2 separate regions of the Homo sapiens genome follow, and region 1 is linked to region 2. The links come from fine-mapping of genetic effects on gene expression. A gene starts in region 2. The other region holds a variant in brackets. All regions are shown on one strand. Distances are between the middles of the regions. Region 1 overlaps TADA3 (transcriptional adaptor 3). Region 2 holds the start of OGG1 (8-oxoguanine DNA glycosylase).

What was found. PIP is the estimated chance that this variant, and not a neighbour inherited with it, causes the effect.
Region 1: its variant is fine-mapped to the expression of OGG1 in whole blood (INTERVAL, PIP 0.92).

The regions. Positions count from the first base shown.
Region 1 is chr3:9,770,796-9,786,931 of GRCh38, reverse strand. It overlaps TADA3 (transcriptional adaptor 3), which reads left to right. Exons shown (of 9, transcript NM_006354.5): 7 at 1,507-1,616; 8 at 2,719-2,904; 9 at 6,383-6,965. The coding sequence ends at 6,575. It also overlaps a transcript of OGG1 not described here. Among named protein-coding and RNA genes, the nearest start is that of CAMK1, 8.9 kb to the right of the region's middle. RefSeq lists a silencer at 3,970-4,019 and an enhancer at 8,493-8,787. The variant G/T (reference allele first, on the strand shown) is at 8,741.
Region 2 is chr3:9,739,492-9,755,627 of GRCh38, reverse strand. OGG1 (8-oxoguanine DNA glycosylase) reads right to left here and starts at 5,676. Exons shown (of 7, transcript NM_002542.6): 1 at 5,205-5,676; 2 at 4,436-4,683; 3 at 3,679-3,858; 4 at 743-924. The coding sequence starts at 5,341. It overlaps BRPF1 (bromodomain and PHD finger containing 1), which reads right to left. Exons shown (of 14, transcript NM_001003694.2): 3 at 15,670-16,136; 4 at 14,687-14,849; 5 at 14,189-14,320; 6 at 13,457-13,603; 7 at 12,375-12,684; 8 at 11,727-12,050; 9 at 11,120-11,404; 10 at 10,473-10,620; 11 at 9,919-10,055; 12 at 9,698-9,816; 13 at 9,174-9,328; 14 at 7,613-8,462. The coding sequence ends at 8,279. RefSeq lists enhancers at 5,903-6,022, 6,053-6,102.

The sequences.
Region 1 (16,136 bases), 31 kb before region 2:
TTTATCATACATTTATTAGGTTGGTGCAAAAATAGGTTGGTGCAAAAGTAAAAACCTGGACTAATATATAGCAAAAGATTGGGAATAATATATAACTTGTGCACCTAATAGAAAAGTGCACAGATCATAAATGTACAGTTTTCACAAATGAGCTTGTATTACCAGCCTGGAGATTACAAAATGAAACATTACTATATCCTAGAAGCCCCTCTCATGCCCCTGTTTTTCTCCAACTTTCCCCAAAGGTAGCCTTACTCCACAATTACTTTTGCTAAGCATCTGTTGGAGGGGCTTTATACACATCCTCCCACTGGAGGCCAGGACAGTGGTTAACGCTGTGTTACAGATAAGAAGATTGAGGCTCAGAAAAGGGAACTGTTCACTTGAGGTCTCACACACCAGGATTCAAACCCTAGCTTCAGGGGCCCTGTCTTTATACCTGCTGGTTGACCTTAGACACACCCTCACACTCTTTCACCTCATTGAGACTCAGTTTTCTATTCTGGCTCAAACACAAGAGTTTATCTCATGGAACAGTCTGGGTACATGTTGCAGGTTATCTAAGGTAGGGGAAGGGGCAGGTCTCTATCTCATATCATCAGACAGGGACCCCAGCTGACGGTGGCCTTGCAGTCTGCACAAGGTCACTCTGGGCGTAATTGTCACTCCAGTCCCACAGAATAAGAGCAAGGAGGCCGGGCGCGGTGGCTCACGCCTGTAATCCCAGCACTTTGGGAGGCTGAGGCGGGCGGATCACAAGGTCAGGAGATCGAGACCATCCTGGCTAACATGATGAAACCCCGTCTCTACTAAAAATACAAAAAAATTAGCCGGGCATAGTGGCAGGCGCCTGTAGTCCCAACTACTTGGGAGGCTGAGGCAGGAGAATGGCATGAACCCAGGAGGCGGAGCTTGCAGTAAGCCGAAATTGTGCCACTGCACTCCACAGCCTGGGTGACAAAGTGAGACTCCATCTCAAAAAAAAAAAACAAAACAAAACAAGGAGGAGTGTGTGAAGGAAACTTTTTGGCCCATGCCTAGCTATGGCTCTTATCTCTTCTGATCACTTTCCCCTGGAGAGAACTTGTCACATGACCATACCCGCCTGCAAGAGAGCCTGGGAAGTACAACTGGACAGGCATTGCCTAGCTGCCGTGGAGGAAAGAAGAGTATGGCATTCGGACAGCTAGCATCTCCGCCACAGCAGGCCTAGCACACTGCCTGGTGCGTTGCAGACGCTTCACAAACCTTAGCTGTTCATTACCATCATTGAGTGTTAATCATTTCTCTTCTGTGTTCCTTTTTCTTCACATCAGTACGAAAATAAAAGGGATTTCTAGAATGATCAAAGCAATTTGGGATTGGTATGGGAAGGCTTCCCACGGTAGGTGGGATGGGAAAGATAAAAGGATATTTCTGGTGTTTGAAGACTGTCAGTGTAGGTCAGAAAGGAGCAGGAAAGTGGAACAGCTATTTTTCCTTCCACTCATTTTTGTGGTCTTCTAGGAAAATATTATTTCCCCTATGGAGGATTCTCCTATTCCTGACATGTCTGGGAAAGAATCAGGGGCTGACGGGGCAAGCACCTCCCCTCGCAATCAGAACAAGCCCTTCAGGTGAGTGGTGTCCTATCCACAACCCACAGTCTGGCCCCCGCTTCTGTTGGCTTCTCTCCATCTCAACCTGGGGAAGTCCTCATCAGTAAGAGGCTGGGGGCAGTTAGGTGAAGCCTAATAGCAGTCTCAAGTGTGAGTGATGACCCAGCGTGTCTGCATGCACAGACTGAGTGCAGGGTTGTTCAGCACAGAACTGTTCATACCATAAATAACCCAAATGTCCTGCTGAAGGGGAATGGTTGGCTAAATTGGCATAACTCCATATGATGAAATAACTTGGGGCTATTAATCATATAGCTGCAAGTATAGAGAAATATAGTTAAATGACATGAAAAGATGTAAATTATAGAGTGACAAGTGGAGAAAATATTAGTTGTAGCCCAGTATGGATGGTATAATACTATTTTTACTTAAAATATATTTCTTTTTTTCTTTTTCTTTTTTTTTTTTTGAGATGGAGTCTCGCTCTTGTCGTTTAGGTTGGAGCGCAATGGCGCAATCTTGGCTCACTGCAACCTCCGCCTCCCAGGTTCAAGCGATTCTCCTGCCTCAGCCACCAAGTAGCTGTGATTACAGGCGCCTGCCACCATGTATGGCTCATTTTTGTATTTTTAGTAGAGACGGGGTTTCACCATCTTGGCCGGGCTGGTCTTGAACTCCTGACCTCAGGTGATCCTCCCACCTCGGCCTTCCAAAGTGCTGGGATTACAGGTGTGAGCCACCATGCCTGGCTTACTTACAATATATTTAAATATGTGCACATAAGGGAAAAAACCTGGACTAATATGTAGCAAAAGATTAGGAATAATATATAACAAAATCTGGAATATATATAATAATATATAACAAAATAATAGTAATTCTCTCTGGGTTGTTGGCATTATGGGTTTTTCCATATTTTTTGAATAGTAGATACATACGTTGCTTGTTTTAAAAACCAGACCAGATGTGTCTGTCCCTCCCTTTGTATCTGGATAGATACAGAGGGGGTGCCCAAAGGGAAAGGCAGGTTTTCACTGACCTTGGGAAGCCCTGGGAACCTCCAAGGTGGGCCCTTCTCCAAGCTGGCTCTTGAGTCTGACGGGCCTGCCTCCCGCTGCAGTGTGCCGCATACTAAGTCCCTGGAGAGCCGCATCAAGGAGGAGCTAATTGCCCAGGGCCTTTTGGAGTCTGAGGACCGCCCCGCAGAGGACTCCGAGGATGAGGTCCTTGCTGAGCTTCGCAAACGGCAGGCTGAGCTGAAGGCACTTAGTGCCCACAACCGCACCAAGAAGCACGACCTGCTGAGGTGAGCGTTAGCAGGATGCACAGTCCCGGGGGTGGCCTTGGAGGCTGTGGCCACGGCTAGTCACCTTTCAGGGGTTTTACAACAGGCTTTCCAATCCTGGCTGGCCTCTAAATCACCTGGAGAGCCTCGAAAAAAACAGCAGTGGCCAGTCCACCGGGTATGTCCCAAACAAATTCTGATTCCACAGAGTGGGGCTCAGGCATCTGTGACTGACCGATTGATTTGATTTGTTTTTGTTTTGTTTTTTTTTGAGAGGGAGTCTCGCACTGTCACCCAGGCTGGAGTGCAGTGGCATGATCTCGGCTCACTGCAAGCTCCGCCTCCCAGGTTCATGCCATTCTCCTGCCTCAGCCTCCTGAGTAGCTGATACTACAGGCACCCACCACCACGCCCAGCTAATTTTTTTGTATTTTTAGTAGAGACGGGGTTTCACCGTGTTAGCCAGGATGGTCTCGATCTCCTGACCTCGTGATCCACCCGCCTCGGCCTCCCAAAGTGCCGGGATTACAGGCGTGAGCCACTGCGCCTGGCCTAGTTTGGTTTTTTAATTATGGTAAAGGCATAATATAAAATGTATCTCCATGGGAGGCTGAGGCAGGAGAATCAGTTGAACCTGGGAGGCGGAGGTTGCAGTGAGCTGAGACTGCACCATTGCATTCCAGCCTGGGCAACAAGAGTGAAACTGCATCTCAAAAAAAAAAAGAAAAAAAATTTACGCTTCTTAACCATTTTTAAGTGTACAGTTTAGTAGTGTTACCCATATTCACATTGTTGTGTGATTTATTTTTTGTCTTTTCATGCTTCTTTTCTTTTTATCCCCAAAGTTTTGTTATTAAAAATTTGATACACACAGAAAATCTGAAAGAATCATACAATAAACATCAGTATATTCTCCACCTAGACTAATTAACTGTTAACATTTTGTTGGAGATCTGTGATTTTTATTTGCTCATCACAAGAAATTGACCAGTGTTTTAGGACATGTTCTTTTGGGAATCCATCACAGTGCCTGCCATTCATTTGATGTCAACTCCCATCCATCTTGTTCTGCATTGATCACGAGGGTATAGGTGACATCTTGAGGAAGACTGTGGAATAGCTACCCTTTAGGTAAAGAGATAGGGAAGCAACCCGAACAAGTCTCTTTGCTTCTCACAGACAAGTGCTGTGTCTTAACTTCATAGAGCCCTGACAGGACAGGGCACATTCATTCATTTGGCCTTTTTTTTTTTTTTTTGAGACGGTGTCTCACTCTGTTGCCCAGGCTGGAGTGCAGTGCCATGATCTCGGCTCACTGCAACCTCCGCCTCCCGGGTTCAGGCAGTTCTCCTGCCTCAGCCTCCTGAGTAGTTGGGATTACAGGCATGCACTACCATGCCAGGCTAATCATTTGGCCATTCTTACTGTCTCTTAGATATTGTGCTGGGGGCCAGCAAGAGAGGCAGAGCAAGGGACTTGCAGATTACTAGCAGATGATCAGTAAAGATAAGTGCCATTAAAAGGAGAGGTAGTTGCTGACAAGCTGCCAGGGTATTTAAGGATAAGAGTGACTAATGTATGCTGAGGGCCTACTGTGTGTCAGGGGCTTTATGTACACTCTCTCAAGTGTCTTGACAACAACCCAGGAGGGAGGAGCTATTTTCGTTGTTTACCAGATGAGGAAATAAAGGCCCAGTGAAGCGAAATGCTCTGCTGAAGGTCACACAGTCAATAAACAGCAAGCTGAGACTTGAACCTGTGGTTGAATCAAAGCCTCTTTCTATAATAGTTTGTTTTCTCTGAAAGGTGAGAAGAAGAAAACACAGATGGAAGAGGCACTGAGGGAAGCAGAGGGAGAGAGAGGAAGAGAGAGAAAAGCAGGCATGTGCAGTTACAGAAGTAGTGGGCCCTAGCTGGGCCTGGTGGCTCATGCCTGTAATCCCAGCACTTTGGGAGACTGAGGTGGGAGGCTTGTTTGAGCTCAGGAGTTCGAAACTAGCCTGGGCAATGTAGTCAGACCCCCTTCTCTACTAAAAATTTTTAAAAATCAGCTAGGCATGGTGGCACATGCCTATAGTCCTACTCAGGAGGCTGATGTGGGAGGATTGCTTGATCCTGGGAGGTAGAGGCTGCAGTGAGCTTGATCAGGCCACTGTACTCCAGCCTGGGTGACAGAGTGAGACCTGTCTCAAAAAAAAAAAAAAAAAAAAAAAAAGAAGTAATGGGCAATGAAGAAATGGCTTGCAGCTCTCAGGAAACCAGAGCACAGCCCTTACCCTGCTGCAGAGCAGCTGCAAGGCCTTAAGCAGCCCCTGACCTGAGCATCTCCTTCCCCTTCTGGAAAACTGGCAGGCTGGACTCAATCACTAAGTGACCTTCCAGCTCCACCATCGATGAAATGTATAAATCAGACCCTGTTCAGAGAGATTGATCTGGTGTCTCACCCACCTCCTGTCAGCCTCAGGCTGCCTAGACCTTAGGGGGCTCTGGAATGCAGATGCCGACGTAAGCAGGCCTTCTGCTGGCACCGGAACACCTGAAACAACAGTGTTTAAAAACAAGAGTTTGGCCCCAGCCTGCTCCAGATCTCCCCCTCACTAACTGTGGGATCCTGGGATCATCTTTGAGCCTCATTTTCCTCACGGGTAACATATGAATAATAGTACATATTTTGCAGGGTTGTTAGGATTAACTGAAAGACAGAGAGAGAGAGTGGGTGTGCCTGTGTGTGTGTGTTTGTGTGTGTGTATGTATATATATATATATTTTAGAGACAGGGTCTTACTCTGTTGCCGAGGTTGGTCTCAACTCCTGGCTTCAAGTGATCTTCCTGCCTCCATCTCCCAAAGCGCTGGGATTACAGGCATGAGCTACTTTGCCCAGCCTACTGTGTATATTTTTAAGACCTTTTTTTTTTTGAAGACACAGTCACGCTCTGTTGCCCAGACTGGAGTGTAGTGGCATGATCATAGTTCACTGTAACCTTGAACTCCTGGCCTCAAGCAATCCTCAGCTCCCTTGGAGTTGGGACTACAGGTGTGCACTACCACACCCAGCTAATTTTTTAAATTTTTTGTAGAGACAGTCTCACTATGTTGCTCAGACTGGTCTCGAACTCCTGGGCTCAAGTGATCCTTCTGCCTTGGGCTCCCAAAGTGCTGGGACTGCAGATGTGAACCCCCATGTGCAGCCAAGACTTTATTCTTCTAGAGCAGTTTTAAGTTCACAACAAAATTGAGAGAAAGGTACAGAGAATTCCCGTATCTCCCTGTCCCCACATGTGCACAGCCTCCCCCGTGATCAACATGAGTTAATATTTTTCAGGAGCTTAAGATAGTGCCATGTAAGTGTAGGTCAGTAACTGCTTTTTGGTCACGACTGTATGACACAATCCACAGGCATGCCAGCCTGGGCTGGTGGGTAGGCTCGGTCTTGAAGAGGGAGGGGTTGTTCTCTGGAGGTGGGCTGACCCTGGCACCTGGCTGGCTGGTCCCCACAGGCTGGCAAAGGAGGAGGTGAGCCGGCAGGAGCTGAGGCAGCGGGTGCGCATGGCTGACAACGAGGTCATGGACGCCTTTCGCAAGATCATGGCTGCCCGGCAGAAGAAGCGGACTCCCACCAAGAAAGAAAAGGACCAGGCCTGGAAGACTCTGAAGGAGCGTGAGAGCATCCTGAAGCTGCTGGATGGGTAGCCCTCACCCCTGCCTCAGGCTGATTATCTGGCCTAGGGGAGGGGAAGGGAGGCCCACTTCCTTCTTTGGGCACAGGAAACATTGGCCTGTGGCTGTCCCTCAAATGGCGGCAGTCTCTAGAGGGCCGTGGCCCTTCCCCTGAGGTCTTTTGGCCTAGCTCTGTACAACCAGGACACAGGAAGCCCTGCTGGGCTAGCCTGAGGCCTAGTCTCTGCTTGGTCCCCGAGATGGGGTTGGAGGGGACTTCGTTTCTGGGTCTTCCTCTTCCCCTCTTTACCATCCCCCACTCCCTAATCCCCTACCCCTGTCTCCCCTTCAAGGACTTCTCCCTTGTGGTTTTGTAAAGTGCAAACTTAAGAATAAAGTGACTGCTGTGGTTTTTCAAAAAAAGCATCCAGTCTTTGAATGTCTGTTACAGTGGGGAGGAAGGAACCAGTGTGGGTGGTAAGGTTTGTGGGGGGTATGCTTGGTGGCTCTCAGCCCATGGCCACTAACCCATGGCATTCAGTCAGGGAGAACTTTCTGAGTACCTCTTTCTGAGGATACTTGTGGCTGCACGTAACAATGCCCCCCCAGCTCAAAGTGGATTCACAGTAAGGAAATGTGTTGGCTGCAGGATGGGCAGTCCTGGGACAGAGTGGCCTTCACGGTTAGCCAATCTAGCAATTCTTCAGGGTCATCAAGGGTCCAGGTTTCTTTTTTTTTTAATTTAAGTTCTAGGGTACATGTGTACAACGTGCAGGTTTGTTACATATGTATACATGTGCCATGTTGGTGTGCTGCACCCATTAACTCGTCATTTACATTAGGTATATCTCCTAATGCTTTCCCTCCCCCCTCCCCCAAGGGTCCAGGTTTCTTAGGGGTCACCACACTGCCCTCCACAGTGTCGACCTCTGCCTAAGGTGAGTCCTTCTCTGGCTGTAGTGTGGCAGTGGAGCAGTTGGGGCCAGATGCTTCCTCATTTACATCCAGCACAGGAGGGAGCCGGAGCCAGCGGGCTTCCATGGCCCATCTACAGAAGCAAGAAGCCTTTTCCCAGATACCATCATGTTTCAGTGGCCCAAACTCAGTCTCACATGCCCATTCCTCAGTCACTGTGGCAAAGGAGACTGTAATGGCTTTATGCCAGTCAGAGTGGAGTTTGCTACTCCATCAAGGTGGTGGAGAGAGAGTAAAACCCAACAAGATCTGAGTAGGAAACAGGGAAGTGAGTGCTAGATAGACCACCGACAACGTCTCTTCCACAGCTGGGGCAGGAAGCTTGGCCTAAGGGACACAGATGAATAAATATGCTCTGGTACCTGCCTCAAGTTGTTCCCAGACTGGTCTGAGAGAATCAGGGAATAATTTGCAATTTACTGTGGGAAGGTTGAGGTCCACGCAGGAGAGAAGGGAGGGTAAGATTCCCTAAGGAAGTGACCTATGAACTGAGCCATAAAGAAGGAGGGCGAACATGGCCAACATTCTCGTATACCCAGCACCTCTCTGTTGGAGAAATGTTCCTTCCCCATCACACATGGTTCTTGTCCAACTGCCAAACTAGGGTGCACACATGACCCCAGCTTGGCCAGTCAAGTGCCAATCCCTCTAGCCACAATGATTAGTCCCAGAAGCAGGCATGTAACCCAAGCTGGGTCACTCGAGGCCCTCCATAAGATTGCTCTGTGGATGCTGAGAGGAGAGTTCCACTTCTTGTTGGACCATAAGCCATAGACTATAAACTCAGTCTACCCCAGTGACCTGCTCTCCTCCCATGGGGAAAAACCTGCTTGAGAATAAAGCCAGCTCAGAAAAGCAGAGCCAGGAGATGGAGAAGTGCTGCATCCAGCTATTCTTGAAGCCACCGGATCCTCCCTTAGACTTCCCACATATATCAGCCCACAAAGGCTTCTTTTGGCTTAAACTAGTTTGCTTTAGAGTTTTGTGATTTGTAACTAAAAAAGGCCTATTACAAGTGAATTTTGGCAAAAAGAAAGATGAAGTAGGATCCTGAGAGAGAGGACAGCATGAGGCCCTGCCTCCCACTAGGTGCTGGGCCAAGCTGCTGCAATTTCTCAGTGACTCATTGTCCCCAGGTTGCTCACAGCCTTCTCAGAGAGAAAAGACACCCACACATGCAATGATGAGAAACCAACTCTAATCATAATGATAATGCAATGAAG[G/T]GCTCAGTAAATGTTAGTATGCACCAGGCATTGTTCTGAACTCATTCAACTACCTAATATTATGGGGTAGGTATCAGCTACCCCATAATAACATCCCATTTACAGATGAGGAAACTGAGGCTTAGGAGGTTACATACCTTGCTTTGTCAAGCAATTGAGTGGTTGAGCCAACATTCAAACTCAGGCCATTTGGCTTACAGAGAGAGCCTCTTCATTACAACTCACTGGGGCCCCACTCCCATTACAGTGTATGTGAATGGTACTCCCTATACTTGGGCAGTGCCCAACCTGTGCAGCCATATATGGCAGCTCTGCTTGAAGACCCCCCTCCTCTTAACCACTCACTTCCATGTTCACTGGGCCACACCATAAGTATGGTGGGCGTTGTTGGTAGAGAGTTCCAAGAACAGAGACAGTTTTGTGGAGGAGGTGGGATGAGAGCTGACATCCCAAAATTGGATGGAATTGTGAAAGAAGGAAGACAGATATAAATAGAAAGAAGAACCCTAGAAGACCGACTGGGCCTGGTTCACCAGAGAAGAAACTTAACTTTCAAGGATCAGTCATGAGCACTCTAGCTGTTCTCTGTTGCATACCTACTATCTGCCTGGCACTGTGCCAGGCCCTTTACCCACCCCTCCTATCTGATGCTTACCATGCACCTCCAAGGAGAGTAATATTCCAGCCTGCAGATGACACAGAGACTCAAAGAGATGCTGTGCCTTGCTGAGGCCATGCAGCCTTGATGCAGGAATAGTTGCTGCCCCCAGGTAGCACCATCCCTGGCAGAGTTCTTACAATCATATCAGTGTCTGCTGGAGCCAAAAGATGCCTCCTTTATGAGTGTGGAGGAAGCTGGGTTGTCATGAGGAGGGCGGATTAGTTCCAGTACCTCAAGTCTCCAAATTTAATTCAAAACAATTCTGATTCCTTATCACTAGTTTGGAGGCAAAGCCTTTTGTGTCTTGGCCCTAGAAAGCATCTGTCTTGCACATCATGGTCTCCCCAGAGTTCCAAATGCCTTACAGCTGACTTTCAGCAACACCAGGGTGAGTGAGAACGGGGAGGGTGAGCTCTGACCCACAGTGGGTCCCCAGCCCCTGTCTGCTCCTGAGTACTCTGGGCACCAAGTGCTCTGGGTCCCAGTTGGCTCCTGCTGAAAAGAAAGTGATGGCAGGAGCTTTGTGGAAATGTGGTCGGGGAGTAAATTTATTTCTTGGCCTGGGGCTCAGGACTCAATGGAAAGAACCAAGTCCAGTGGACTGTAACTCACTCGTTTAGGTATCAATAAACTCCCCATTTCTTCTCTTCACCTACCTAATTACCCTATTCACTTATTCACTCCATCCACACACCTCCACTTCTTCATTATACTTTTGTTCCCTCATTCAGTGACCCTGTCACCATGGCTGAGAGCTATGGAGGTGACTAAGGCTCCAGAAATGGGGACACACTAGACAGACAATCAAAACACTAGGCCGCAAGAGCAATAAGAAGACTGCAGGCCGGGCACGGTGGCTCACGCCTGTAATCCCAGCACTTTGGGAGGCCGAGGCGGGCGGATCACGAGGTCAGGAGATCGAGACTATCCTGGCTAACATGGTGAAACCCCTTCGCTACTAAAAATACAACAAATTAGCCGGGCGTGGTGGCGGGCACCTGTAGTCCCAGCTACTCAGGAGGCTGAGGCAGGAGCATGGCGTGAACCCGGGAGGCGGAGCTTGCAGTGAGCCGAGATCGCGCCACTGCACTCCAGCCTGGGTAACAGAGCGAGACTTCATCTCAAAAAAAAAAAAAAAAAAAGAAAAGAAAAAAGAAAAAAGAAGACTGTGCAAAGTTGGCAGGGACCTGGGGCAGAGAAAGACTTAACAACAGCTTAGAGGGTCAGGAAAGGCTTCAGGGAGGATGTGGAAAGAAAATTGCTGGGCAGAAGATAACATTCCAGACAAAAGGAGCAAGGCACAGAGGTGTGAACAGCTGGCCTGCTTAGAGAGAAGTAAGAACTGCAGTGTGACTGGAGCCCTGGGTGTGTGGAGGGGAAAGGAAAGGATAAGAGATGAAGCTAGAAAGTAGGTTGAAGACCAGGCTGGGCAAGGGTTTGAATGGCAGATTAAGGAGCATGGACTTTATTCTCTAGACAATGGTGCTCCAAGTGTGGTCCCTGGACTGCCAGCAACAGCATCACTTAGGAAATTGATAAAAATGCAAATTCTCAGGCCACAGACCTACTGAATCAACAGCTCTGGGTGTATAGTCAGGCGCCGTGGCTCACACCTGTAATCCCAGCACTTTGGGAGGCCAAGGAAGGCGGATCATCTGAGGTCAGGAGTTCAAGACCAGCCTGGCCAATATGGTGAAACCCTGTCTCTACTAAAAATACAAAACGTAGCCAGGCATGGTGGCACGCACCTGTAATCCCAGCTACTTGGGAGGCTGAGGCAGGAGAATTGCTTGAACCTGGAAGGTGGAGGTTACAGTGAGCAGAGATCACACCACTGCACTCAAGCCTGGGCGACAGAGTGAGACTGTCTCAAAAAAAAAAAAAAACCTCTGGGTATGGGGCATAGCCTTACATTATATATAACATGCCTTCTAGGTGATTCCTGGTGCATATTAAAGTTTGAGAATCACATTCTGAAGTAACAGGGAGCCACTGGTGGTTTGTGAGCAGAAAGCACTCTCAGAGCAGCATAGAGGCTGGACTAATGAGAGGGAGTGAGGGTGAAGTTGGTGCAAAGAAATACAAGTGAGATGTGGAATGTGGCAGACTGGTAGATGTCCTCCAAAATCTGTTTCAGTAATATCTCATGTGGAAACTGGAATCATACATTGAAAATACTCTCCATACATTTGATAGCAAATGGAAATTAAGTTTCACATGGTGATTTCTTATCAAAACCTTTAATCAAAAGCTCAGGGCATATTGTTTTTTGTTTTTTTGGGGTTTTTTTTTGAGACAGGGTCTTGCTCTGTTGCCCAGGCTGGAGTGCAGTGGCATAATCTAAATCACTGCAACCTCAGCCTCCCAGGTTCAAGTGATTCTCCTGCCTCAACCTCCCGAGTAGCTGGGGTTACAGGCGTGTGCCACCACGCCCAGCTAATTTTTGTATTTTTAGTAGAGACAGGGTCTCACCATGTTGGTGAGAACTCCTGGGCTCAAGTGATCCTCCTGCCTCGGCCTCCCAAAGTGCTGGGATTATAGGCATGAGCCCAGCCAAAAAAAAAAAAAAAATTACTCAAACATCTTGGAGCATATAGCCTTGTCCTAATTTAGGATTACTTCTCTGAAATTGATTGCCAGAAGAGGAGTCCCTGAATCAAAAGGCCTCGACATTATTTAAGCCTTTGATGCATATTGCCAAATTGCTTTCCAAAGGATCTTTAGCAAATCATTTTCCCACCAGAATGTAGGACTACTCATTCCTCACATCAACATCAGCCTTCAGTGTTACCAGCTTTTTAAACTTCAAATTTGAAAGGCTGCAAATGACCTTCTATTTTGTACTTTTTTGTATCACTAGTGAGATACAAAATGTCCTGTGTTTACTGTGTTTTATCTGTATCCTTTGACCATTTATTAGGTTCTTACTGTTTGTTATCAATCCTGTGTGCTGTTTATATAATAAATATATTAAGCCATTGTCTACAAAACATTTCCCCAGTCTGAAGTTTGCCTTTCATTTTTGGCTACCATTTCGGAGTAGAGTAGGGTTTTCACTTTTTGAAAAAAAGTTAAAAAAAAGTAACAAAAGTTAAAGTTTTGTTTTTTTTTTTTTTTTTTTTGAGACAGAGTCTGGCTCTGTCATTCTGGCTGGAGTGCAATGGTGCAATCTCAGCTCAATGCAGTCTCCGCCTACCAGGTTCAAGTGATTCTCCTGCATCAGCCTCCCGAGTAGCTGGGACTACAGGCATGCGCCACCACACCTGGCTAATTTTTGTATTTTTAGTAGAGATGGGGTTTCACTATGTTGCCCAGGCTGGTCTTGAACTCCTGACCTCAGGTGATCCTTCTGCCTTGGCCTCCCAAAGTGCTGGGATTCAGGAGTGAGTCACCACGCCCAGCCAAAGAATTTTAAAAAATAAACCTGTCCATCTTTTCCTTGTTATTTCTTCCATTTTCTCTAATCTTAGTTAACTACTCACTCTTTCAATAGCTTCTTTTCTGTCAGGTTCAAGAATTCATGGAGGCCAGCCATACTGGCTCACGCCTATAATCCCGGCACTCTGGGAGACCCAAGCAGGAGGATCACTTGATTCCAGAGTTCCAGAGAAGTCTGGGCAACAGAGGGAGTAGAGACCCGATATCTACAAAAAATAAAAAACTAAAAAAAATTAGCCAGGTATGGTGGTACACACCTGCAGCCCCAGCTACTCCGGAGGCTGAGGTGGGATGATCACTCCAGCCTGGGAAGTCAAGGCTGCAGTGAGCCATGATGGCGCCGCTGCACCACAGCCTGGGTGACAGAGTGAGGCCCTGTCTCAAAAAAATAATAAATAAATAAATAAATAAAAGAATTGATGGAGATGTCTGCACTGTTTAGCCATTCAAAAAAAAAAAAAAGAAGAAAAGATCATCCCCCTTTTCCCTGAGAACATTTGACTTTCCTTGACTCACCTTTTTTTAAATTATTATTCATTTATTTATTTTTGAGACGGAGTCTCGCTCTGTCGCCCAGGCTGGAGTGCAGTGGCGCGTGGTCTCTGCTCACTGCAAGCTCTGCCTCCCGGGTCCACGCCATTCTCCTGCCTCAGCCTCCTGATTAGCTGGGACTACAGGCGCCCGCCACCACGCCTGGCTAATTTTTTGTATCTTTAGTAGAAATACAAAAGATAACAGGGTTTCACCATGTTAGCCAGGATGGTCTCGATCTCCTGACCTCATGATCCACCCGCCTCAGCCTCCCAAGGTGCTGGAATTATAGGCGTTAGCCACCGCACCCAGCCACTTTTTTTTTTTTTTTTTGAGATGTAGTCTTGCCGTGTCACCCAGGCTGGAGTACAATGGTGCAATCTCAGCTCACTGCAACTTCCATCTCCTGGGTTCAAGCAATTCTCCTGCCTCAGCGTCCCAAGTGGCTGGGGATACAGGTGCATGCCACCACACCCAGCTAATTTTTGTATTTTTAGTAGAGACAGGGTTTCACCACGTTGGCCAGGCTGGTCTTAAACTCCTGACCTCAGATGATCTGCCCACCTTGGCCTCCCCACGCCTGGCCCTTCACTCACTTTTTGATTAGTACTTTGAAATGTGCTCATCGGGACTGGGGGCTGCAGAAGGATGTATATGTATACGCATCCAAAAAATCTGGAAGAATTGTACTAAAAATGTGAACACTGGTTGTCTCTGGTTGGTGGGGGCCCGGCTGAGAGTGTTGTGTTATTCTTGCCTCCCTCGCACCCCTAATTCCTTTGGACAAGATACCTCTTCCATTCCTTATGGCTGCCCATTACAGTACACTTGCTCAATATAGCACCCTAATTCTCCTGGCAACAGTTTTGGAGGCCAAGGGGTGAACATGTCACTCTATCACTCAAGCAGAGCCAGAGTCCTTCCCTGAGAATGAGATAGGAAATTGGGAGGATGCTTTCCTTCCACTGTGTTTAATTGGAAAGCTGGGGCTGCCTCACTCCATGTTTCCTGCCAACTAGAAGTTCACTCTGGAGAGAAAAAGAGGCCAACGTGTGAAGAAAAATCAAGACAAGGAGAGAGGAGGGAAGACAGAGAAAGCAAATCCTATGAGTACTACATCTCCAGTTCCAGTCTCCAAGCCCCTAATCTCTGGTGTTTTTCCTGCAATCTTGTGCCAGCTATTGTGAACTATAGATTCCTCTTGGATGAAGCTGGTTTAGGTTGGCATTCTGTCACTTGGGAAGCGAAAGAATCTCATCAGTTAGTCTGTGTGTGTTTTCAATACATTATGGAATTTTCCTGCAATGACCATGTATCACTTGTTCAATAGAAATACTAAGAAAGTAAAGATAATGTGTTTGTTAAAGAAAAGAAAACACGAGGCCTCTCAGAAATGCTCAAAAGCAGGAAAAATGTAAAGCACACCATAGAAGCTGTACAAGTCAGCTGGGCGCGGTAGCTCATGCCTGTAATTCCAGCACTTTGGGAGGCTGAGGCAGGTGGATCACCTGAGGTCAGGAGTTCGAGACCAGCCTGACCAACATGGTGAAACCCCCATCTCTACTAAAAATACAAAAATTAGTTGGGCGTGTTGGTTCACGCCTGTAGTCCCAGATACTTGGGAGGCTGAGGCAGGAGAATTGCTTGAACCCAGGAGGCGGAGGTTGCAGTGAGGCGAGATGGCACCATTGCACTCCAGCCTGGGCAACAGAGGGAGACTGTCTCAAAAAAAAAAAAAAAAAAAAAAAAAAGAAGTTGTACAAGTCCTCGAAAGGACAGAGGTCATCTTATCACCCAGGGGGTGTTGTCATCAAGATGAACAGGAATTTGTGGTAAAAGAACCCCTAGCTCAGTGGGTGTGCTTGGTGGGTATAGGGGAGAGTGGGGGCTCAGCCCTGAGCAGGAAATGTATTTTTCCATGAACTAAGGAGTCTGAGATACTGAGATTTGGAAGATGGATCCCTTAACCCCTCATCCCTGGCCAAATCAAGTCCTCTCTCTGAGTCTCAGTTTACACTGAGTCTAGCTCTCATGTTTTGAATAGTGTTCTAGGCACTTCATATCATTATATCATAGAATTCTCAGAACTCTGAGTCAATCTTCAATATTCCCATGTTCCCGAGTAAGAAACTGAGGTTCGGAGAGGTAAAGCATGACCAGGATCAGTTAGACTCCAAAGCCTTTCCAGGAACCTCAGCTATCTTCCTCTCTCATCTGTAAGATGGGCATAATAAATTGGCCAGGTGCAGTGGCTCATGCCTGTAATTCCAGAACCTTGGGAAGCTGATTGGGGAGGATTGCTTGAGCCCAGGAGTTTGAGACCAGCCTGGGCAATATAGTGAGATCCCCATCTCTACAAAAAATAAAAAAGCCAGGTGTGGTGGCACGCACCTGTAGTCCCATCTACATGGGAGGCTGAGGTAGGAAGATGACTTGAGCCCAGGAGTTTGAGGCTGCAGTGGGCCGTGATCATGCCATTGCACTCCAGCCTGGGTGACAGAGCAAGACCCTGTCTTAAAAAAAAAAGAAAAAGAAAAAAAGAAGAAGAGAAAGAAAGAAAAAAGAAAGAAAGAAAGAGAAAAAGGAAATGAGCTGGGCATAAGCACTGTTCTCTCCCCATCACCAGCTGGAACATGCAAGAATTCAGGAGTAGGGAGTGGCACTTGGAGGCCCTTGGAGGTGGAGTGGGGTCCCAAGCAACGTGCCTCCTCCGGCTGCCCCCAGTTCAGCCCCATCCCCAATTCCTGCGAGTTGCTCCCCCCGCCC
Region 2 (16,136 bases):
GCTGGGTGTGGTGGCGCATGCCTGTAATCCCAGCTAATCTGGAGGCTGAGGCAGGAGAATAGCTTGAAGCCGGGAGGCGGAGGTTGCAGTGAGCCGAGATTGCACCACTGCACTCCAGCCTGGCAACAAAGCAAGACTCCACCTCAAAAAAAAAAAAAAAAAGACAAATGCCTAATTTCCAGTCATCTTATTGCCAGTTAACCCTATTGACATCAAGCAAAAAGTTTTGTCAGTACATGTCATTTTACGAAAGGAACAAAATGTGGCCGGGAGCAGTGGCTCATCCCTGTAATTCCAGCACTTTGGGAGGGCAAAGCAGGAACACTGCTTGAGGGCAAGAGTTTAAGACCAGCCTAGGCAACATTGTTAAGAGCCTATTTCTACCAAAACAAACAAACAAACAAAAAACCGAAAAGAAGAAATATCTTCCCATTTGTCTCCCCCAAGGAAACTATTATTTAGTTTCCTGCAATTTCCTTCTGGAAATTGCTGCATATATATAGCAGCATATATGTGTTGCATCTGAACAAATGGTCTTTCTAGAAATTCATTCAAAGGGCTATATCCTTTCTACTCTTTCTGCACTCTGCTTTTTTCTCTCATAAAACATCTACTTATATCCTTTCTCCTTCCTGCTCTGCCTCCGGAAGCCAAGCCTCCACCCAGCTCCCAGGCTTGGCTCATTTCCTGCTCTCCTCTTAGTGTCAGTAGAGAGGGCAGCTCCTACCCCCTGGGGCCTCACCTTGGTGCCCACTCCAGGCAGGATGCAGAGGGCCTTGTGGGCCTCCTCATATGAGGACTCTCGTAGCTGCTGCAGCCAGGCTAGCCCGCCCTGTTCTTCCAGGATGGCTCGGGCACTGGCACTCACGTAACGGGCACGATAGCCCAGGCCCAGCTTCCTGAGATGAGCCTCCACCTCTGGCCCTGCGGGGAGTGAGGAGGAGGGCAAGCATCAGGCATCTTCAAGTTCTTCCTGTCCTTAGGCTAGTAAGTGAGCTCTCTACCTCACAAGAGTGCTTTTCCTAAGTTCCCCTCCTACCTCCCCACCCTCTATGGGATAGTGGACACTTTTATGTGCAAGGGAAAGGGTTAGGCCTGGGTCCTGTCCCTCTACACATGTTTTCTGAGCACCTGCTATGAATTGGCCCCGGAGCCCAAGTCTAGTCCAGGGACTGAGGACTTGCTTCCCTTGAGGAGCTCCCCAACTGAGTTCCTTAACCTTTCCGAAAGAGTGTTCACACTCATGATCTAAAAAAATAACCACAATATAGCAACAGCTTCTATGATCAAGTGCTAGGCAACATGCTTCAGATATATTATCATGCTTACTTTTCCCAAGAACCCCACTGACAGTACTGCTGTTTTCCCATTTTACATGTGGAGAAAATGAGGGCTTAGAAGAGGTTAACTTACTTAAGAAAGGACATGGGGGAGATAAGATCTTGCACCTAGGTCTGGGACACCAAGACCTGTGCTTTTTCTTTTTTTGACACAGGGTCTTGCTCTGTCACCCAGGCTGGAATGCAGTGGCACAATCTCAGTTCACTACAGCCTTGACCTCCTAAGGCTCAAGCGATCCTCCCACCTCAGCCTCCTGAGTAGCTGAGACTACAGGCTTGTGTCACCATGCCTGGCTAATTTTGTTTATTTTTTGTAGAGATGAGGTCTCACTATGTTGCCCAGGCTGGTCTCAAACTCCTGGGCTCAAGCCATCCTCCCACCTTGGGCTCCCAAAAGTGCTGAAATTACCAGCATGAGCTACCCCACCTGGCTAACGCCGTGCTCTTAACCCATTACACTACACTGCCTCATGATTGCTTTATTCACTCCCAAAGCCCTTCTAGATAGAAACTGTTATTCCCATTCTACAAACAAGCTAAGAGAAGCCGGAAGAGGTGAATGACTTTCTTGAGGCCTTATGACTAACTAAGCCAGGAGCTGAGACTCAAGAACAGGTTTCTTTTTTTTTTTGTTGAGACAGAGTCTCACTCTGTCGCCCAGGCTGGAGTGCAGTGGCACGATCTCGGCTCACTGCAAGCTTCGCCTCCCGGGTTCACGCCATTCTCCTGCCTCAGCCTCCCAAGTAGCTGGGACTACAGGCGCCCACCACCACACCCGGCTAATTTTTTTTGTATTTTTAGTAGAGACGGGGTTTCACCGTATTAGGCAGGATGGTCTTGATCTCCTGACCTCGTGATCCACCCGCCTCGGCCTCCCAAAATGCTGGGATTACGGGTGTGAGCCACCACGCCCGGCCAGGTTTTTTTTTTTTTTTTGAGACGGAGTCTCGCCCTGTCGCCCTGTCGCCCAGGCTGGAGTGCAATGGCATGATCTCAGCTCACTGCAACCTCTGCTTCCCAGGTTCAAATGATTCTCCCGCCTCAGCCTCCTGAGTAGCTGGGATTACAGGTACCTGCCACCACGCCCAGCTAATTTTTAGCAGAGAGCGGGTTTCACCAGGTTGGCCAGTCTGGTCTCAAACTCCCGACCTCAGGTGATCCACCTGCCTCAGCCTCCCAAAGTGTTGGGATTACAGGTGTGAGCCACCGTGCCTGACCCAGGTTTCTTTTTGTTTGTTTTGAGATGGAGTCTCGCTCTGTAACCCAGGCTGGAGTGCTGTGGTCTGATCTTGGTTCACTGGAGCCTCCTGCTCCCGGGTTCAAGCAATTCTCCTGCCTCACCCTCCGGAGTAGCTGGGACAGGTGCCTGCCATCACGCCTGACTAATTTTCGTATTTTTAGTAGAGATGGGGTTTCACCATGTTGGCCAGGCTGGTCTTGAACTCCTGACCTCAGATGATCTGCCTGCCTCGACCTCCCAAAGTGTTGGGATTACAGGCGTGAGCCACCACGCCCGGCCAGGAATGGGTTTCTAAGCACCAAAAACATTCTCCTGTTTTGAGGCAGTCTGTCTCTTTGCTATGCAGTTCCCAAGCACTTGTCCTAGCTTGGTTCTCACATCTGCCAATCGATACACTTGCCTCTGTAAAACATTTGCCTTACAGGGCTACTGTGAAGAACACACGTGTTCTTAGATACAAAACTATCCCATTCACTACAATGATACCAGCTTGAATTTTTTTTTTTTTTTTTTTTTTTGAGACAGAGTCTCGCTCTGTTGCCCAGGCTGGAGACGGGGTTTCACTGTGTTAGCCAGGTGTGAGCCACTGCGCCTGGCTGATACCAGCTTGAATTTTACATATACTTCCTGTGTGCCAAACACTGTGCTAGGTGCAGTATGTATATTCCTTTCTTCAACCCTCATGACAACTCCAATAATAGCATAGGTAGGTGCTATTATTATTCTACTTCACAGATGAAGAAACTTTAGTACAGAGATGCTAAATAATGTGCCCAAGTGAGAGTTGGGGTTCAGAACCAGGCATGGGTCTGTCCCCAGAATGCATGCTCTTAACCCCAAACTACTGTACATTGTATACAGATATTTTTCTGATTAGGCATTGAACCCATTGGGCAAAAAGCACAGACCAGTGAGGTGCTGACATTTTAGGGATGCATAGGGAGGATGAGTAACTGGAGTTGATCAGACCAGGCAGGGCGGTTCTGGATAGGGGAAGTGTTTGGGAAGGCAGGAAGCCTTGAGAAGGTAACCAGGGGAGAAATGAACAGATCTTGAAAGCTGATGGAAGGCCTGGGGGCAGGGGACCCACCTACTCACCAGCCAGGGCCTGCAGGCTGGGGAAGCCATGGTAGGTGACATCATCAAGCTGGATGAGCCGAGGTCCAAAAGCCTGGCACAGCCGCTCCACCATGCCAGTGATGCGGGCGATGTTGTTGTTGGAGGAACAGATAAAAGAGAAAAGGCATTCGATGGGGTCTTGTCGCAGCAGTCGCACACCTGGAGACCAGAAATGCAGGGGGTAGGAGAGGTACCTGCTGTTGGGTGTGGCCTCTTCCCACCCACAGGTCAGATCCTAGGTACCAAAACTCCAGGAGGATCCCAGGAGAATGAGAGTCAGCACCGTTAGAGAAAGCAACACCAGACCTCTCATTCCTCATAGCATCTTGTGAGGGCTGAGTTACCATCCCATTCCACAGATAAAGAGGCCACAATGTAAGCTCCATGAGGACTGGCATTTGGGTCTGTTTTGTTCACTGGTGTATCCCCGGTCACACAGCAGATGCTTTGTATATATTTACAGAATGAATGAAATCACTTGCCCTAGGTCACACAACCAGGAATGGGCTCAAAATCCTTGTCACTTCACTATGGTGATTAGCAGGATAATAATAATGGTAATAATACTTACTATGTGCCTGGCATTATTCTAAGCACTTTACATGTATTAGTTCCTTAAATCCTCATAAAAGCCTATGAAGTAGATATAATCCCCATTTTACAGGTGGCAAAACTGAGTCATAGAGAAGTGACTTATGTCCAAGAACCCTAACCCCAGCCCAGGTCCTGTACTCACCTTGGAATTTCTGAGCCACCTCTTGGAAGTGGGAGTCCACGGAACCCCAGTGGTGATACAGTTGAGCCAGGGTAACATCTAGCTGGAAGTACTTGCGCACGGCCTCCAGCTCGTCTGGTGTGGGCCTGCTAGCCTGGCTCTTGTCTCCTCGGTACACAGTGCAGTGGAGCTGCTCCTCAGTCTGAGTCAGTGTCCATACTTGATCCGCTAGTACACCACTCCAGTGTGCAGGACTTTGCTCCCTCCACCTGAGCCCAAGGCACATGACAACCCTGGCACTCAATTTCCTTTCTTGCACCCTTTGGGGTCCCTCCTATCCTACAATAGCTCCATGTACGAAACTAATACAAGTAACAGTGCTATCTTCCAGTCTGAGCAACATGGCGAAACCTCACCTCTACAAAAAATACAAAAATTTAACCGGGCATGGCGCACACCTGTAGTCCCAGCTACTCGGGAGGCTGCGCCCGGGGGGTCGAGGCTGGAATGGGCCTCTCTGCATTCCTACCTGGGCAACAGAGCGAGACCCTGTCTCAAAAAAAGAAAAACAAGTGCTATTATCTTCTGCATCGGTTATACCGCTGGATCCTTACAATTATCACTGTACAGACATATTAAAGGTAACAGGTTGGCTACCCGTGCTTGTTTCCTCTTTTGTACCCCGGGTTTCTTCCATCATCCCCCAAATTCCTTTGTACCCCATGCCAGGCAGTGTTGAGGCGGCAGGAGCCAGTCCGAGGGGACAGGCTTCTCAGGCTCAGTCACTCACCGGAAAGATTGTCCAGAAGGCAGAACCAGGTCCAGGCGCAGCTCAGAGCGAGGGCACGGGATGGAGGCCCACAGGGCAGGAGTGGAGGCTAGAGTACGATGCCCCATGCGCCTGGGCAGAAGCGCGCGGGCAGGCATTTCCACAGCAGGCACCGCCCCGTAGTAGCCCCGCCTACCCAGAACCAGGCCTCGTCGACGCCCAAAGACCCCGCCCAGACAAGGACCACGACCCTTAAGGCCTCGCCCACACGGTGCTGTTTAACAACCTTCCCTGTTTCACTTAATTCCTCCACCTCCTGCATGCCTCGCCCTTTGCGGGTCATCAAAGCCCCGCTTCGTGCCCCAATTCTCCGGCTTTCCTGAGGTGTAGGTCCCGCCCCCTCCTTGCGACTTATCTTCTCCCGCCCCCAGAGCCTGTGGGCGCGCACAGCTGTGTTCTTCTGGGTTCTCCAGGGGCAGACCACAGCACCACCGGAAGTAGGGCTCAACCACCGCTCATTTCACCTAGAGGTAGCCAATCCGAGGAGGAGGTAGGAGGCGCCAATGAGAAATCAGGGTGGGCGGGCCGTTCTGAGGCGCTCGCGCGGTTGGCCGGCACTGGGCTCTCTGCCAGCTGCTCGCCTTTCCCCCTCCGGGATTGTCTGCACTCGGGGCGCTAACGAGTTCCATCTGGGCGCCCCGCGGTTCCTCAGGGCTGTCCGTCTTCAGAGCCACGTCCTTCCCCAGCCCGTTCTCCGAGAGCCGTTCTCCCCCGAGCCTTTGCAGTCTTAGGCGTTCGCCCTCCTTGGGCCGCCTCCCACGAACCCTGTCTTCACCAAGAACCGGAGCGAACACAGCTCCGGCCCCAGAGCCCTCGGGAAGTGTCTCCAGAGTATTATTCTCTTCTGCGCCCGCCCGCTAAGCTTGTCCCATTCAAGGCCTTTAGGCGTCCTCTGAGACCTCAGGACATCAGAGGCCTCTCCTCGGATTGTCGTCCCGCCGGCCGCCACAGCTGCTGCCTGCCGTCTTGGGCATTTCTTCCATACTCCATCTGCTCATGCTTTCCTCGGAATGGGACGTTTGCCGGGGGTTTGTCTGGGGCTGGGCCCAGAAGCCCATCAGGTTGAGTCCAAGTCCCAGTGTGTGGCCCTGAGGCAGCCTGCCTTCTAGTCGCCTGGAGTAGGAGGATGGATTATTTAATTTCTTCCCTTCTGGAGGATGGCATGAAAAAGCAGGGAGCTAGGAGACATGACCTTTATCTGGGCCATTCTCACCTTTTAGCATAGGGATTTGGGGTTGCTGTATCTTAACTATCAGGCTGCAAGTTTTTTTTCTTTGAGACGGAGTCTCACTCTGTCGCCTAGGCTGGAGTGTGATGGCGCGATCTCGGCTCACTGCAAGCTCCGCCTCCCGGGTTCAAGCGATTCTCCTGCCTCAGCCTCCCGAGTAGCTGGGACTACAGGTGCGCGCCACCACGCCCAGCTAATTTTTGTATTTTTAGTAGAGATGGGGTTTCACCATGTTGGCTAGCATGGTCTCGATCTCTTGACCTCGTGATCCAGCCGCCTCGGCCTCTTAAAGTGTTGGGATTACAGGCGTGAGCCACCGCACCCCGCCCAGACTGCAAATTCTTGAAGAGCAACATCTGCAGCGGATTGACCCTTGTGTCCCAGCCAGAGACCTAGCGGAGTGTACCGTCAGCATGGAATCAACATCAGACCAGTGCCATCATTGTCTCAGTGCCAGTCCTCAGTGGCTGCAAGGCCTGGGCCGCCCCTTCTTCCTGTGACTGTTCCTATCTGTAGGCATGCCATCCCACAGGCGCCTAGCACTTGGAAGGCATTCCTTCAATAAATGTCGGTGGAGTCTGGAAAGAAGGTGCTGAGGTTGGGGGTGAGCAAAGAGCAACCGTCTCCATCCCAGCTCTGTCTCCGGTTAAGCAGTGGGGAAGGTCTCAGCTGTATTGATGCTGAAACACTTGGGCCATGCCACTGGCAAAGGACTTGAGGCCTCTAAGGGCCAAGTAGGAATCGATAGTTGACTCTTCCCCTGGCAGTTCAGCATACTGGTTGAAGAGCCAGGTTTGCAAACAGACCTGGGTTCCAATTCTAGCTCTGCACCTTCCTAGTTGTAGGAACTTAGGCAAGATAATTTTTTGAAACTTCAGCATCTTTGTGGAGATAACCAGTCTATTATTAAACTACCCTATAGTTATTGCAAGGATTACGCAAAGCTGAATGTCTAAAGGTGCTCAACACAGGGCCTGCCACTCACTCCATGCATGGGCAACAGGGGCTCTCTTTGCTGTGTCTTATGAAATGTAGCATGCACAGCAGTCAGCAACCACTTGGGCCCAATTATGTATCATCCCTGGGGCACAGAACCTCCCTTTGTATCCCCTTTGCCCTGGCAGGGGGCAAGAACAAAGAATTCTAAATTGACAGTTTATTTTCTAAGAATCAATATATTTTCTTCCTTTGAAATAAATACAAACCAGTTTGAAAGGTGGGGGAATCTATGGGAAAGAGAAGGGAAATGGGGACAGCCCCCAGTCTTTTTTTTTTTTTTTTTTAGTACCAAATGACTCTGGCGCGACCCGGAAACGCAGTTACAAATGAGAATAATTTAAATTCTCCGATAATTACAGTATTTACAACAGCAGGGGAGGGAGTCACCTAGTGCCCCTCTTCCAGGCTGGACAGATGCCCACTCACCTCACGACCGGTAGGGGCCCCAGGCCTCTAGGCAGTTATGGATTCTCCTGGCATGAGCAGGTAGAGGTGGTGGGATGGCCTGTTTTACGCAGTGTCCTAACTTTGGCCCACCACCCCGCCCTACAATGCTGTGAGGTCTCTGGAGCTTTTTCTGACCTGTGGGCCCTCCCTCTCCTTGCGCTGAACTGCCATTGGCCCTTGGAGTGTTCTGTACAGTCCAGCTGCACTTAGGGCAGGAGGGACCTCCCCCACCCAGCTTCCCCTGAGACTGGCCCCAAGACCAGAAATGAGTCAGTGCAGAGGCCGGTGCCACTCCAGGACAGTGAGCAAAGGGGAGGAGAGAAGTCACAGGGCACTATAGGTTGGGCTGTGTTGAGCAGTATCAATCACTATCGCTGGTCTCACTGCTCTGCTCGCCTTGCACCTTGCTGCGGTGCTGCAGAGCCCTGTGGTAGGCGATCTGTACTGACTTGCGGATGTTGGACTTGCGGCCCTCCAGCATCTTCTCCTTGTCTAGGTCCTGGTTCACACCCAGAGGAACCAGCTTGGTCCTGGGCAGCCACTGCCTATAGGATAAGGTGAAGATCAAATAAATCATCTCAGGGAGAACAAGGACCAGCCTTCCTCCTCTATTCACTCAAACACACCACCCAAGCACCCACTCTGGCCAGACTCTGTGATGGTCCCTGCCCTCAAAGGACTGTTCATGGTCTAGAGATGAAAGAGCCCAGTCAACAGTTATACTGTGTGGTGGCGGCGGGAGGGTAATCACAGGGTATTTATGGGTACAAAAAGGAGGCACCCTGACCTCACCAGAAATAGCTACCCTGTGCCATAGGCTCTAGGCAGACTTTACTGACATTGAATATCCTCTGCAGACAATTAACAAAAAGACTACATGTGTAAATGTGACAGAACAGGGATTCAGAGCCTGAATGTTTATGCCTGCTTTATCCTCATTTTGTCACTGTGGAGGCAGAGGTGGGAAAACTAAGTCTAGAAGCCATCTGAGTCTGGGTGGGAGCCACCTCTATATTTGTCATAAGTCTCTGATGGTCCTTTGGTTTCTAGCTATAGCTGTGTCCACTAGTGCCCACTCAGCCTCTCAGACACATGGTCGACACAACCCTTTCGCTCAAAAAACTGTTCTAAGTCCCTCCCCCACTGACTTGTGATAGCCCAGTCTGCCTGTTGCTGGAGTTTCCTGGCAGTCTGCCCCCATACCACACAGGGCTGCATCTGTGGCTGTGAGTCACACCAAATGCTCCCCTCCTTACCAGGTTCGTTTGTTGTCAAAGAAGAGGACGAGGTAGAGATGCTCTCGGGCTTCCTGGGTCATCTGCTCCCCAAGTTTCAGCACCTCCAGTGGGGGCACAGGGATGGGAACCCCATGGTGGAACATACCTTCTCGGGGCATCTTTGGATCAATGATCTGAGGATATAATAAGAGCCCAGTTTGGTTCAGTCCATGTCCTCCCAAGGCTTTTCCTCCTCAAGAACTTAGAGAGTATGTCTGAAGTGGGGACAGAGAGGGTATCATGCTACTAGAACTGCAATGCTGACCCTCAGCTTCTTTCCATGCTAAATTATTTCAGAGCCCAAGGAGCAAAGAGAAGCAAAAGGGAGAGATGGAGAAACTGAGTGGGAGCCTCTAAGTGGTACTCAAGCTGTATCTGCCCACCAGTCTACCTTACCAAGAAACTCTGTGCCCCACAGCTCAGCAGGGAGTAGGAAAAGTCTGCTAACTGTGAATCTGTATTCTGGGATTGGAAAGCAAGAAGTGTAACAGAAGCAAGCATACCAGAGCTGGGTATGATGGATAGCCTCGGCATTTGGCCCACACGAGGTCCAGAGCATCCAGCGGGGAGTCCTCATCCTCTGACAGCCAGCCAGCTCCCCGGCCCAGACTCTTCCTTACCACTTCACAGGAATGGGGGAGAGGGGGTGGATCAGCAGCTGGGGGGCTGGCGAGACCCTGACACTGGGTCCCCAGCATCCCTGGCCTTGGGCAAGGGAACTTACTGCTGTGGCCCACGCCGCGGCCAGTGCCCACGGAGTAGGCCTCATTCTCAGTGCCTGAGGTATCCTCACTGCTGTCCTCTGGGAAAGTGCCCCGAGAGAAGGAGGGTTTGCCCCGGCCTTGTTTTGAGGGCGTTGTGCTGTGGACAAGACAATGGGAGCTCAGCTCAAAGGAGGGGAAGAATGGGGAACAGCATGGTATGTGCCCTCAGCTCTTAAAGCCCGCAGGGTCTGAGACTTTTGGAAAGCAGAGGCTATATGAGGAATTTCAAATTCAAACACCCACAGGGGCTAGGCTGATGACCTAACAGAGGTGGGTTAGCCTGAGCAGTGGCGGCAGGAGTGCATACTCTAATCATCACCTTAATCCAGGATGGTTCTCTCTGTTCTATTAATGGTAACACTGATTTATTTATTTAGCAGAGAACCTTGAGTTTGAGCCATCTTAATCTAGACTGAGATGGCTGCCACCCCACTTCCAACAGGGAAACCTACACAGGCCCAAGAGCCCTGGAAGGGCATCCCCTGAGGTTGGCCTCGATCTGGAGGGCTGGTACCTGGTCCGGTCTGAAGCAGCGCTGCTACTGCTACTGCTGCTGGACTCAGAGTCTGAGCTGCTCCGGGGAAGGCTGCAGTCATTACGGTATACCAAGAAACTCTTCTTCACTGGTTGGTTTCCACCGCTGAAGCCATTGGCTGGTAAGTCTTGGTTGAAGGGAAGGGGAGGAGGGAAGGAACCGGTCAGGAAGATGTAGATCAGAGATGACATGGAGGTAAGAGGGACTTGGAGCTTGGGTTCCCCTTCTGTGCTGGAAAATTCCTCCAACCTTGGCCAGCAGAGCTAGCTCTGGGCAGTGTCTACCACAGTTGGCCACAGCCCTGCTCCACCCCTTGCTTCCCTCGGCAGTTACTGGCTTTAGGACACAAATGGCTTAAAGGGCAGGAGATCCCCAAGGAAGGTGAGAAGAGAAAAGGTAAAGTGATACAATGGAGGCAGGGGGCCCTGGATGGGACTTTAGCTGGGTCGTAGTGTCTCTGGGCCTCAGTTTTCCCAACTGTAAGATGAGTGAGTGGAGTTAAAGGATTCCTAAGGACCCTTCTAGCTCGCTCTTTTATGGGCAAATAAAGGGGTAACTGGGAGTATGCTGGGAAGAATGGCAGCTTTGCTCACTCTCTTGGGGGGCTGGGTGATGGTAAGGCTCACCCATTGGGGGGTCTTCTGTGGACTTATCACTGTCGCTGTCTGAGCTCGAACTGGGCCGGGGGCTCCTACCCCGCTTGCGCTGACGCAGGGAACTCATGATGGGGAGCTGGGGGGGCCCCACAGGACTGCCTCCGTGGCTGGGGGTCATCTGGCTCTCCCGGTTTTTGGGGGGCCGGCCCGGCCTCTTGGGCGGTCCAGCTGTCTTCGGGTTCTTTTTGGAGAACAGAACTGAGGTTCTCCTGCCCACCTCATGTGCGGGGGTTGAGGACATGTTGGGACCCAGGCCTGGAGCAGAGAAAGAAAGAAGGAGAGTTGGTGAGGGGCCTGATTTGAGAAGGGTAGATATCCAGGGTCATGCCCTGGGCATATAGGACCATTACTCCAGCTAACGTTGGGGAGATCATTTTAGGGGCTTGGAATTTGGAAGATTAACTCTTATACAAATAGCCAGAGAGGCAGCTAAGAGGCCCCTGATTGGGGAATGAGGGAGAAAGTACAGCTAGCTGTGTAGGAGGGACCTCTGCCTGGGGAATGGCAGGGGTTGAGTGTGTGCTGCAGAGCCAAAGTCTGACTTGCTTTGGGGTCCACCTTGCCATGGGATTCAGACCTTTGCTTGTCTCCTGGCTGCTGCTCTCCTCTGCCGCACTATCTGTCTGCCCATCCTTGTCACAGGCTGCCGGGTGGGGTGTCAGACTACCCCGGCTCGAGGGGCCATGCCGCTCAGGGCCATCACGTCCCGTCTCTCGCTGATGGGCAAGCTTCCGCCGCAGTGCCGTCATCTCTTTCTTGATCATCTTTGCACGCCGTGAGCGGCCCACACTCTGCTTGCTGGCATTCACTTCGTCCAGCCGCTCCAGAAGCAGCTTTAGCTGTTCTTCCACTGGCAGGTGCTTCTGGTTCTCCAGCAAGACCAGCCGCTCTTCCTCGGCTGCTAGGGGTAGGGTTGGAGGGGAAAGGTCAGACTCAGGGCAGCCCTCAGGGCCCCTTGAACCTGGGCAGGCAGCAAGAAACCCACTCATCCCCCCTGGGCTTCTCACCAGGAACAGCTGTAAAATAGCAGCACCAAGATGTGGAATGGCGGGCACTGCTATCCATTCACCCAGTCTGGCTTCTTGGGGAGCATTCCTGGGGATAGCTTGCCACTGCTCAGCCTAGCTGCTTTCTGCCTACACTGCCTGCTCCCAGGAGGGGACTTTTGGAAAGCTGTCCATCCCCGGCATTGGCCTCTTATATGTGTGTGTGATATATCACCCACCATCTTCAGTGTGGTGTGTGGCCTCATCTCCAGCCAGGCTGTGGGGGATATGCATGCCCGTCTCAAAGTCAATGCCCATTTTTTCTGCCTGGCGCCGGGCCTGGCGGAGCACAGCACCACCCTGCTCACGAAGCCGCACTGCTGCCCGGTAGAAGATGGTGTCCTTGGCGTTATACTTGAGGCAGTTGCTGACGATGAGGTTGAAGTCCTCCTCAAAATCATCAAAATTCAGGTAGCGGTAAGCCTCCAAGTTCTGCTTCATGGTGAAAAAGTCCATGGGCTTTTTGATGTGGTCTAGGTAGTCAGGTACCTGGAAGGGCAGGGCAGGTTTGTTTTAAGTGGAGATATCCTCCTTATTGCCCCGAACCCTGCTCCTAACAAGCCCCCCTGAAACACATCCAGCAACCTCCTCCCACCACAGTTAGAGGCAGGCATATAGCACAGGGGAAAGGAAAGCTGGATTCTGGTCCTGACTTTACCAGTCACAAGCTGTGTGACTTTGGCAAGTCTCTTAACCTCTCTGGGCCTACTTTTCCTCTCCTGGAAAATGATGAAAGTAGAGCCAAATATACTTTCTAGACTATATGAGGCTTTAGTAAGAAAATGGCTTGGGGACTCCTCTGAAAATAAACACCACCTTGCATTCCTACAGCTCTTTTTACTTAACAGTAACTTATAAGGAGGCTGCTGCCTCAGGCCTCTCATTTTATACCTTTTAGAGAGAAGAGTCTGCCAGTCAGGACCTAGGGCTTCAGAGCTGGTTCTTTAGGTGCTGAGCCTTCTAAAGTCTCCGTTCTAGGGTTCAGCACCCCGAAAGTGTCTTCCTGCCCTGGGATTATTCATTTGGCAGACTCAGTCCCTGCCTCTGGGGAAGGAGTGCAGACTGCCTCCCATTCTGGGCCCTTGGGGTGTGACAGGGACAAGACAGAGTCCAGGTGATACATGTGGCTCCAGTTCATCCTGCCCCAGAGCCACCAGCCCCTCTCTTCAAGGTCCCCATCTAGTCCTGGCCCAGACCTGCAGCAGGGGTCCAACTGGGAGAGGAACAGAGAGAAGGTGGAGTGAGGGGAAGGGATTCTTACTTCGTCCAATTCGGTTACCTCAGACAGAGGGACCGGCTCGCTGAAGATGTTGCCTGTGTCCTTCTCTTGGAGCTGCTCCAAGGTTTTGCGAAGGAGGATGAGGAAAGGAGTCAGCTGCATCTCCATGGCAATCTGCTGAACCTTGATCTAACATAGAAAAAGGCCTGATCAGCCAGGCCTCGGCCAGTTCAGTGGCAAAGAGGTCTGAGGATATGGTCCCAGCTGGCCTGGGAACCCGCCTTCTTTCCCACCCTCACAGCTGGGTGTACTCATACAGGTCTACCTTCTATGAGGCTCCACCCAGGGAAACTTGCACCAACAATTCTGGCTTCCCCCTTTCTTGAACTACCAGCACCAGCTACCTATGTCACATAACTGAGGATTCTGTTCATACGCTCCTGTGACATTCTGCTTCCAGCAGAACTAAAAGCACACCGAGCACCAGGAGACCTGACTCCAGCGTCAGCCCTGCTGCTATCTGGCTGGGGTACACACGCTATTCCTTCTCCTGGGTCTTTTTTTTTTTTTTTTTTTTGAGACGGAGTCTCGCTCTGTCGCCCAGGCTGGAGTACAGTGGCACGATCTTGGCTCACTGCAAACCCCTCCTCCCAGGTTCACGCCATTCTCCTGCCTCAGCCTCCCGAGTAGCTGGGACTACAGGCGCCTGCCACCATGCCTGGCTAATTTTTTGTTTTTTCTTTTATAAAATAGGGCTGGCCCAGGAGCACTCACCGTCTCCCTTTTGAGTTTTTCCCGCTTGCGGATCAATTCCACGAGCAGCCGAGCTCGCTCCAAGTCATGCCGGAGCCGCTGCCAGGACTTGAGCTGTTCTTTAAGGGCCCAGTTCTTATCCTCAGAATCTCTCTGTAGAGGCAAAACGAAGATCAGAGGATGATTAGAAAGCCAGAGGAAAGGTCAACAGGGAGAAGAGAGCCCAGGAAACTCAGGTCAAGCCAAAAGAGGGAGCACAGTAATTTATTGGTAGTGCCTCAATCTGTGTGTCCCCAAGGCCTGGCAGAATAAATGCTTGGTATGTGTTTGTTGAATGAATACATAAACACATAGGAACAACATCTTTTCATTGAACATTCCATGCTGATCCTGGTTTGAGGGCTAGCTTAAAGGAGGAAAGAGTCTAAGCCCTCTGACACTGGAAACTACAGTTGCAAATTTTGGTTTTCGTCCCCCTGGCGCTAGTTCCCAGAGCCCACAGGGAACTGGACACAGTACCCCAACTTGGTCACAGTTCCTCTGAGATTGCAGGTGTGTCTGCAGGCGACGTAGCAATGGGACCCCATTCCGTGACTGCCGCTTCAGTGTCCAGTAGCTGTGCAGCCTCTGCATGAACTGGCTCTTCCTTTGGATGGTCAGGCGGTTGGTGATTTTACTAAGCCTGGGAGGCAGGAAACAAAGAGTAAAACTTGTTGGGCCCTGATTCTCTTAAGCAGAGCAAGGGTCTCTGGCCAGTGAAAGTTCCTGAATGGGGATGAAGGGAGAGGATCTCTTGTCCAAAAGGCCTGGGACTCTGGACTTAAGGCAAGGAAGAAAGAGTGGTGCCATCAGTGGTACCGTGGCAGACAGGAAACCAAGCTCCCAGCACTAAACCAGATCCCTAACCCTGTACACCAGCAATCAGGGACTTCTGCCCCTAAGACTGCTCTAGTCACTGCAGCCCAGAGTACTATTTGACCCTGGGAGCCCCACTGAGACTGAGCCTTTGAAGGTTTTAAAATGAAGTACAACTGTACAGCAGAAATATATAGTAAATCAAATAAACGGCACAAGAGAACTAAAAAAATCCCTGGCCATCACAGCCCAAATGAGCAGCAGTAACCACTTCACAACTTCTTGAGCTTCCCCTTCCCCGCTTTTCATTCTATTTGTTTCTTCATATTCAGACCATTTTTTCCATTGCTGCCAGTGGCAGTTCCATCCTCTTCCATCCCAACTTAACAAACCACACCATCAAAATGAAGGGCAGTTCCAAAACGCCTGTTAGCTATGCCAGATAAAAGCTGACATTTCTGGCTCTTAATGTGAAAGTCAGGTGACCTGCTAAAGACAACTATCTGTTTTGAAAATATGTTCTTTTTAACTTCTATGCAGCTCCTGGGAAGATAGCCCAGCCCTGCCATTCCACTCAGGAGGCTGCCAGCTCCTCTCCTGGAGGCTCCTTTCTCCCTCATCTGCCTGTCCACCGGCTCCCCACATACCTGTGTGGTGGGATGCAGGGCACTGACACCACAGGTGCTGCTGCCCGCTTCTCTGCCAGGATCTTCCGTGCCTTCTTCATTTTGATCCGGGACTTGGCCTTGGCCTTCTTGACTTTCTCTGAGCTCCAGCCCTTACCCTCATCCTCCTCCTCATCTTCATCCTCCTCACCCTCGCTGTGGGACAGGGCAGGCAGTCGGCGTGCTGAACCTGGAGGCGTGTGGATGTCGCAGTAGGCTGTCTTGCGGACACTGAAAGAGGTGCCGTTGGCGCCTGTCTCCCGCACAGGCTCCATCTTCATGTAAAGGCCAGCCTGCTGGGCGCATGTCACATGGAAAGCTGTGTAACAGTTGGCCTTGTGGCACTGGATGCAGGCCCCTGAGCCCCGTTGTTTGCAAATGTAGCAGGTGAGCTTCCAGCGAGCTGGTGGGATGTGCTCAATGCTGTCAATAGGCTCTAGGAAGACCGT